Homo sapiens: one gene and its partner. Each later gene encodes a partner of the first gene's protein in a complex. Each region holds a gene or a part of one and is shown on either strand. Other genes may lie near its edges.

Region 1 (3,500 bases):
TGCCCCATCCATTAAATGGGTAAAATGGAAAGTCTAAATTCCTGTATTATAAGCCCTCCATGATTGGCCCCCTTGCTCACCTCTACAGTCAAGTTTTTGGCTATTCTACCAGTCAGACAGCACTCACAGGTTCCCAGAACAGGATATACCTGGCCTCACACAGTCTCCTTTCTAGCCTGGGCTCATTTTTACTAATCCTATCTCTATCTGTGAGATCCCAAAATCAGACACAATTCCTCAAAGACAGCCACCAGGATAACTACTGGGTTAGGTTCTCCTGTTCCTCCCACTATATACGTACTTCCCAAATACAATGCTGATCACACCAGACTCCGTGAATGCCAGTCTTCTTCCCTTATCTATAAACTCCAGGAAGGAAAGAAGGAACAATGTACAGAGGATAAGTTCCTGGCATACAGAAAATGTTGGCCTAATACAGAATAACTGCCATCTTGTCAACTCTTCTACGCCAGTATTCTTCAAATTATGGCTCAAAAGCCAACAGTGGGTCATAAAAATCAATATAGTAGGCTGCAACCAGTACTAAAAAAAAAAAAAAAAAGAAAAGAAAAAAAAGCAACAGAAAATATGAGAGTATATTACAAGTAATAAGGGTAAGTATTCTTGTGCATTCTTTGAAACAGAGTCTCTAGTGCTACAAGTTAAAGGTAGTTCTTCCTTAAGTGTTGTAAAAAAATTCTTTGGAGCACTGCACTGCTACTTTTCTTCTTCCTCCTTTATAAGAAAGTTTCTTAGAGGCAGGCATAGTGGCTCACATCTGCAATCCCAGCTACTCAGGAGGCCGAAGCAGGAGGATAACTTCAGCCTGGGCAACACAGCAAGACTCCATCTCAAGAAAATTTATTCTTTAAGACCCAGGTGGCTGGGCACGGTGGCTTACCCCTGTAATCCCAGCACTTTGGGAGGCCGAGAAGGGTAGATTATGAAGTCAGCAGATCGAGACCATCCTGCCTAACATGGTGAAACCCCATCTCTACTAAAAATACAAAAAATTAGCCGGGCATGGTGGCGGGTGCCTGTAGTCCCAGCCACTAGGGAGGCTGAGGCAGGAGAATGGCATGAACCCAGGAGGCGGAGCTGGCAGTGAGCCGAGATCGTGTCACTGCACTCTAGCCTGGGTGACAGAGCTAGACTCCGTCTCAAAAAAAAAAAAAAAGATCCATGTAAGAAAATGAAAAATAGAAAAAATTATGCTTAATTGGCCAGGCACTGTGGCTCTCGCCTCTAATACCAGCACTTTGGGAGGCCGAGGTGGGCAGACTGAGGTCAGGAGTTCGAGACCAGCCTGGCCAACACGGTGAAACCCTATCTCTACTAAAAATACAAACATTAGCCAGGCATGGTAGCAGGTGCCTGTAATCCCAGCTACTTGGGAGGTTGAGGCAGGAGAATAGCTTGAACCCAGGAGATGGAGGCTACAGTGAGCCAGGATTGCACCACTGCACTCCTGTCTAGGAAACAGAGTGAGACTCTGTGTCTAAAAAGAAGAAAGAATATGCTTAACACAGTTCTTTATCAAGAAGCCATTCTTAAACATTTCTAACAAGAACAATGTTTTCCATTTTCTCATTATGCCTTAACTATCTGCTGATTTTCATTTCTATTACTTACGTATACAAGACATCTTACATGATAGGATATATAAGATGTCTTGTATACGTGACATGATAATATATATGATATATATATACGTGACATGATACAAGATGTCATGATACTATATATATATGGTTGTCCCTTGGTATCTGCTGGGAATTGGTTCCAGAATCCACTCCCTCCACTGCAGATACCAAAATCTGAGGATGCTCCAGTCCCTGATATAAAGGGGACATGTAGTATTTGCATATAACCTACACACACCCACCCATATACTTTGAATTCTTTCTGGATTATTTACAATACCTAATGCAGTGTAAATGCAACATAAATAGTTGGTGCACTGTATTGTTTAGGGAATAATGACAAGAAAATAAAGTCTGTACATGTCCAGTACAGATGCAACCATGGATTTTTTTCCCCTAAATATTTTCAATCTGTGGCTGACTCCACAAACACGGAACCCTCAGATACGGAAGGCTAACTGTACAGTATTTTTCCATTTTAAGCTCTGTTCCTATATTCTTATACTCCTAGAAAACAACATTTGGATAGATGACATAAGGCTTACTCTTAAGACTCCTCTATGAACATCATGCACTTGGCTTTCTCTTTATCCAGTCTATCTATACAGGAGTTCATCCTTACCCCGTTTCATTTTCTGCCATTTCAAACACCTGTGGTACAAAAATATTACAAAGAAAACTGCAGAAATAAACACTAATTTTTGTTGTTTTAGAAACAGAGTCTTGCTATGTCACCTAGGCTGGAGTGTACAGTGGTGTCATCATAGCTCACTGTAACCTCAAAACTCCTGGGCTCAAGAGATCCTCACACCTTAAGCCTCCCAAGAAGCTAGGACTACAGATGCATGCCACCATGCCTTGCTGACTTTTTAAATTTTTTTTCTAGAGATGGTGGGGGGATGGGGGGTCCCACTACATTGCCCAGGCTGGTCTTGAATGCCTGGCCTCAAGCAATCCTCCTGCCTCAATCTCCCAAAGTGCCAGGATTACAGGCGTGAGCCACAACAATGTTTTAAACTGTGCGCCATTCTGAGTAGCCTGATGAAATCTCACCTGACCGGGTAGTGAATCTCCCCTCCGTCTAATGTATTCACCTGTATAAACTACCAGCCATTTGTCACTTAGTAGCCATCTCAGTTATCAGATTGTCAGACTGACTATGGGGCAGGGCAATGCTTGAGTTTTAAGTAACCCTTATTTTACTTAATGACAGTCCCTAAGTCCAAAAGTAGCAATGACAGCTATATGGATATGCCAAAGAGAAGCTGTAAATTGCTTGAAGGTGAAAGTTCTTGACTTAATAAGGAATGAAAAAAAATTGTATGCGGAGGTTACAAAGATCAAATCTATACATGAAATTGTGAAGGAAAAAAATTCGTGATAGTTTTGCTGTTGTACCTCAAACTGCAAACATCACAGCCACAGTGCATGACAAGTGATTAGTTAAGATGGAAAAGGCATTAAATTTGTGTGTGGAAGACACGGACAGAAACGTGTTCTGACTGATGACAATTATATTCACTACTATACAGGGTTTCAGGTATCCACTGGAGATCTTGGAATGTATCCCGCAAGGATAAGGGGGGACTACTGTATATCCACGAAAAACAAAAACAGGCCGGGCGCGGTGGCTCATGCCTGTAATCCCAACATTTTGGGAGGCCGAGGTGGGTGGATCACGAGGTCAGGACTCCCTGTCTCTACTAAAAATACAAAAATTAGCCGGGCATGGTGCTGCGCAGCTGTAGTCCTAGCTACTCCGGAGGCTGAGCAGGAGAATCGCTTGAAGCCGGGAGACGGAGGTTGTCATAGGCCGAGATCACGCCACTGTACTCCAGCTTGGGCAACAGAGCAAGA
Region 2 (3,500 bases), on another chromosome or scaffold:
GTGTTTTTGTGGTGGGAGAGAGGATCAGGGGTATGTGTCTTAGGACTGGCACAGAGAGGTTTCAAGGGGGAAGGCCCAAGTTCATCTGTCTTTTTTAGGCAACTGGAGCCTGTTCTAGGATTTTGCCATGCTTGAGCTTATGAGGGGAAGGGGATGTGGAGGATGGAGGATGGGAGGGTAAGGTGGGAAGGACCTTAGTGGGAAAAGATAATCTGTAGTTATCTGTTGCAGAGAAATGCCTTCCTGAAAACTAGGCTGGAATGTATTATAAACTGCCTCTGCTTGGGCCGGGTGCGGTGGCTCATGCCTGTAATCCCAGCACTTTAGGAGGTCGAGGCGGGTGGATTACCTGAGGTCAGGTTTTTGAGACCAGCCTGGCCAACATGGCGTAAACCCCGTATGTCCTAAAAATACAAAAATTAGCTGGATGTGGTGGTTCGTGCCTGTAATCCCAGCTACTTGCGGGGCTGAGGCAGGAGAATCACTTGAACCCAGGAGGCGGAGGTTGCAGTGAGCTAAGATCGTGCTGCTGCACTCCAGAATGGGCCACAGAGCAAGACTCCATCTAAAAAAAAAAAAAAAAAAAAAAAAAAGCAGCACTTAGAGGCAGTGATGGCTTGGGCTTGTCTCTTCTTGGCAGATAGGGGTCTGTGTGTCTTGTTGAAAAAGAAGCAACTTCTTTAATGCAGTCATTCTCAACGAGAAGTAAGATCAAAATCACTTGGGGGACATTTGCAAACTATGCAAGTTCCCCATCCATATCCCCTCTTTCACCTGTTGAGAATCAGTGCTTTGAGTCTTCGGGTCTAAAGAAGAACTCAGATGGGGTGTGGTGGCTCACACCAGTTATCTCTGCACTTTGGAAGGCTGAGGCAGGAGGATCACTTGAGGCCAGGAGTCTGAGCCTAGCCTAGGCAACATAGCGAGACGTCATCTCTACAATTTTTCTTTTTTTTTTTTTGAGACAGAGTTTTCCTTTGTCACCGAGGCTGGAGCACAGAGGCGCAATCTCAGCTCACTGCAGCCTCAACTTCTTGGGCTCAAGCGATCCTCCCACCCCAGCCCCCCAAGTAGTTGGGACTACAGGTGCATGCCACCGCACCTGGCTTATTTTCGTATTTTTAATGGAGACAGGGTTTTGCCATGTTGCCCAGGCTGGTCTCAAACTCCTGGAGTCAAGCAATCCTTCCACCTTGGCCTCCCAAAGTGCTGGGATTACAGATATGAACCACCGTGCCCGGCCTCTACAAAAAAATTTAAAAATAAAGGAGGAATTCACCTGTAATCCCAGCACTTTGGGAGGCCGAAGCAGGCGGATCACAAGGTCAGGAGATCGAGACCAACCTGGCTAACACGGTGAAACCCCGTCTCTATTAAAAATACAAAAAGTTAGCCGGGCGTGGTGGTGGGCGTCTGTAGTCCCAGCTACACAGGAGGCTGAGGCAGGAGAATGGCATGAACCTAGGAGGCGGAGATTGCAGTGAGCCGAGATTGTGCCACTGCACTCCAGCCTGGGCGACAGAGCGAGACTCCATCTCAAAAAATAAAAATAAAAATAAAAATAAAAATAAAAATAAAAAAATGGGGAATTCAGATGGCTAACTCTGGTCTTCTTTTCTCCTACTCCATTTCTTCTTTTTCTTTGTCTCAACAGCATCTGCATTGCCGGGACCGGATATGAGCATGAAACCTAGTGCCGCCCCGTCTCCATCCCCTGCACTTCCCTTTCTCCCACCAACTTCTGACCCACCAGACCACCCACCCAGGGAGCCACCTCCACAGCCCATCATGCCTTCAGTATTCTCTCCAGACAACCCTCTGATGCTCTCTGCTTTCCCCAGCTCACTGTTGGTGACAGGGGATGGGGGCCCTTGCCTCAGTGGGGCTGGGGCTGGCAAGGTCATTGTCAAAGTCAAGACAGAAGGGGGGTCAGCTGAGCCCTCTCAAACTCAGAACTTTATCCTTACTCAGACTGCCCTCAATTCGACTGCCCCGGGCACTCCCTGTGGAGGCCTTGAGGGTCCTGCACCTCCATTTGTGACAGCATCTAATGTGAAGACCATTCTGCCCTCTAAGGCTGTTGGTGTCAGCCAGGAGGGTCCTCCAGGCCTTCCGCCTCAGCCTCCACCACCAGTTGCTCAACTGGTCCCCATTGTGCCCCTGGAAAAAGCTTGGCCAGGGCCACATGGGACAACCGGGGAAGGAGGTCCTGTGGCCACTCTATCCAAGCCTTCCCTAGGTGACCGCTCCAAAATTTCCAAGGACGTTTATGAGAACTTCCGTCAGTGGCAGCGTTACAAAGCCTTGGCCCGGAGGCACCTATCCCAGAGTCCTGACACAGAAGCTCTTTCCTGTTTTCTTATGTAAGTGGGGAGACCGGAGATTAATTATTCTAGGGCTTTTAAATAAGGAGGACTTTGGGGTGAACATAGTAGTTTAGGCTGTTTAGGACTACTTGAGGGAAGGTCATGAGGGCAAGGGAGATGCTCTGAGAATGAAAAACATATTAATAATAATAATCAGCCTCTTAACCCACTTCCTAGTTTATAACAACCTTTCAGGTGTCTTATCTTAAGTGATCCTCACCACACTGTGAGTTCAGGCAAGCCTTCCTCTGGTAATCTTCATTTACAGATAAGAAGACTGAAACCAAGGACCAGTGATTGGAACTTAGGTCTCTCACTCTAAGTGCCAGGGTCCTCCCCCCGTTCTATTTTACTACCTTTTGACATTGAGTCAGAACTATCCAAACTAGCCAGGATGAGTGCTGGACCCTAACTCAGGGCCCTGGGTGGCAGGGGGAACAGTGTGGGGCCAGGCAAAGGACTTTGTGTGTGCTGCTCCCTCTGCTCCCTCCACTCATTTTATTCAGGAGAATTCACTTTGAAATAGGGTGGTGGGTAGAGCTTGCTTAGTGGTCAAGGGCATGGCTCTACCACTCACTAGATTTGTGATCCTGGGCAGGACATTTAACATCTTTGCCCTCAGTTTTCTCAGTTAAAAAGGGGGATAACTATACCTAATTCACAGAGTTGCTGAGGAGATTAAATGGGTTAATATATGTGAAGTCCTTGGCGCAGAGAATGTTTCATTAAATGTCAACTGTTTTATTATTATCCTAAAAAGGCCATCTAGAAGAGGAAAAGAACTCGCAAAAGGTCAAAACGTCCTTGCTTAAGAGCGAGTGTGTGTTTAGTCAAGGAGCCCAGGGTCCTAGGCTGTTTTGTTTACAAAACAGTCATTCCTCAGCTGGGGAACAGTCTTCCCTTCCCACCCAGACCCACTGTCCCTCTCAACTGCCCTGTGCCCTCAGCATTTTGTGTAAGCCGCTATATAACACATACCACATTTTATTGCTTTAAACAAATGTACATGGTGCTCTTCCAGTGGCTGAACTCCTAAAGGAATCCCTCTACCCCGAACTTGGAGCAAATGAATCAAGATGTTCCCCCAAAGTCCTAGATGTACAGCGTCTTCAGGCTCCCTGCTTTCTCAAGGCA

Evidence for each region. Proteins that work in one complex are often made in the same cells at the same time.
Region 2: the proteins of EP300 (region 1) and NUTM1 are in contact, whole or in part, in an NMR structure (PDB 7XFG), measured with the Homo sapiens proteins. Residues at the interface, in NP_001420.2 of Homo sapiens: Arg1731, Ser1734, Ile1735, Arg1737, Ser1757, Lys1760, Met1761, Val1764, Ile1781, Lys1783, Gln1784, Leu1785, Ile1786, Ala1787, Leu1788, Tyr1791, Lys1794; in NP_786883.2 of Homo sapiens: Tyr405, Pro406, Asp407, Pro408, Gly409, Leu410, Leu411, Tyr413, Ile414, Glu416.

The regions. Positions count from the first base shown.
Region 1 is NC_000022.11:41,099,092-41,102,591, reverse strand, and holds part of EP300 (histone acetyltransferase p300), read right to left. Parts: intron 1-3,500. UniProt on the Homo sapiens protein: Functions as a histone acetyltransferase and regulates transcription via chromatin remodeling. Acetylates all four core histones in nucleosomes. Histone acetylation gives an epigenetic tag for transcriptional activation.
Region 2 is NC_000015.10:34,346,315-34,349,814, forward strand, and holds part of NUTM1 (NUT family member 1), read left to right. Parts: intron 1-1,654; coding exon 1,655-2,363; intron 2,364-3,500. UniProt on the Homo sapiens protein: Plays a role in the regulation of proliferation. Regulates TERT expression by modulating SP1 binding to TERT promoter binding sites.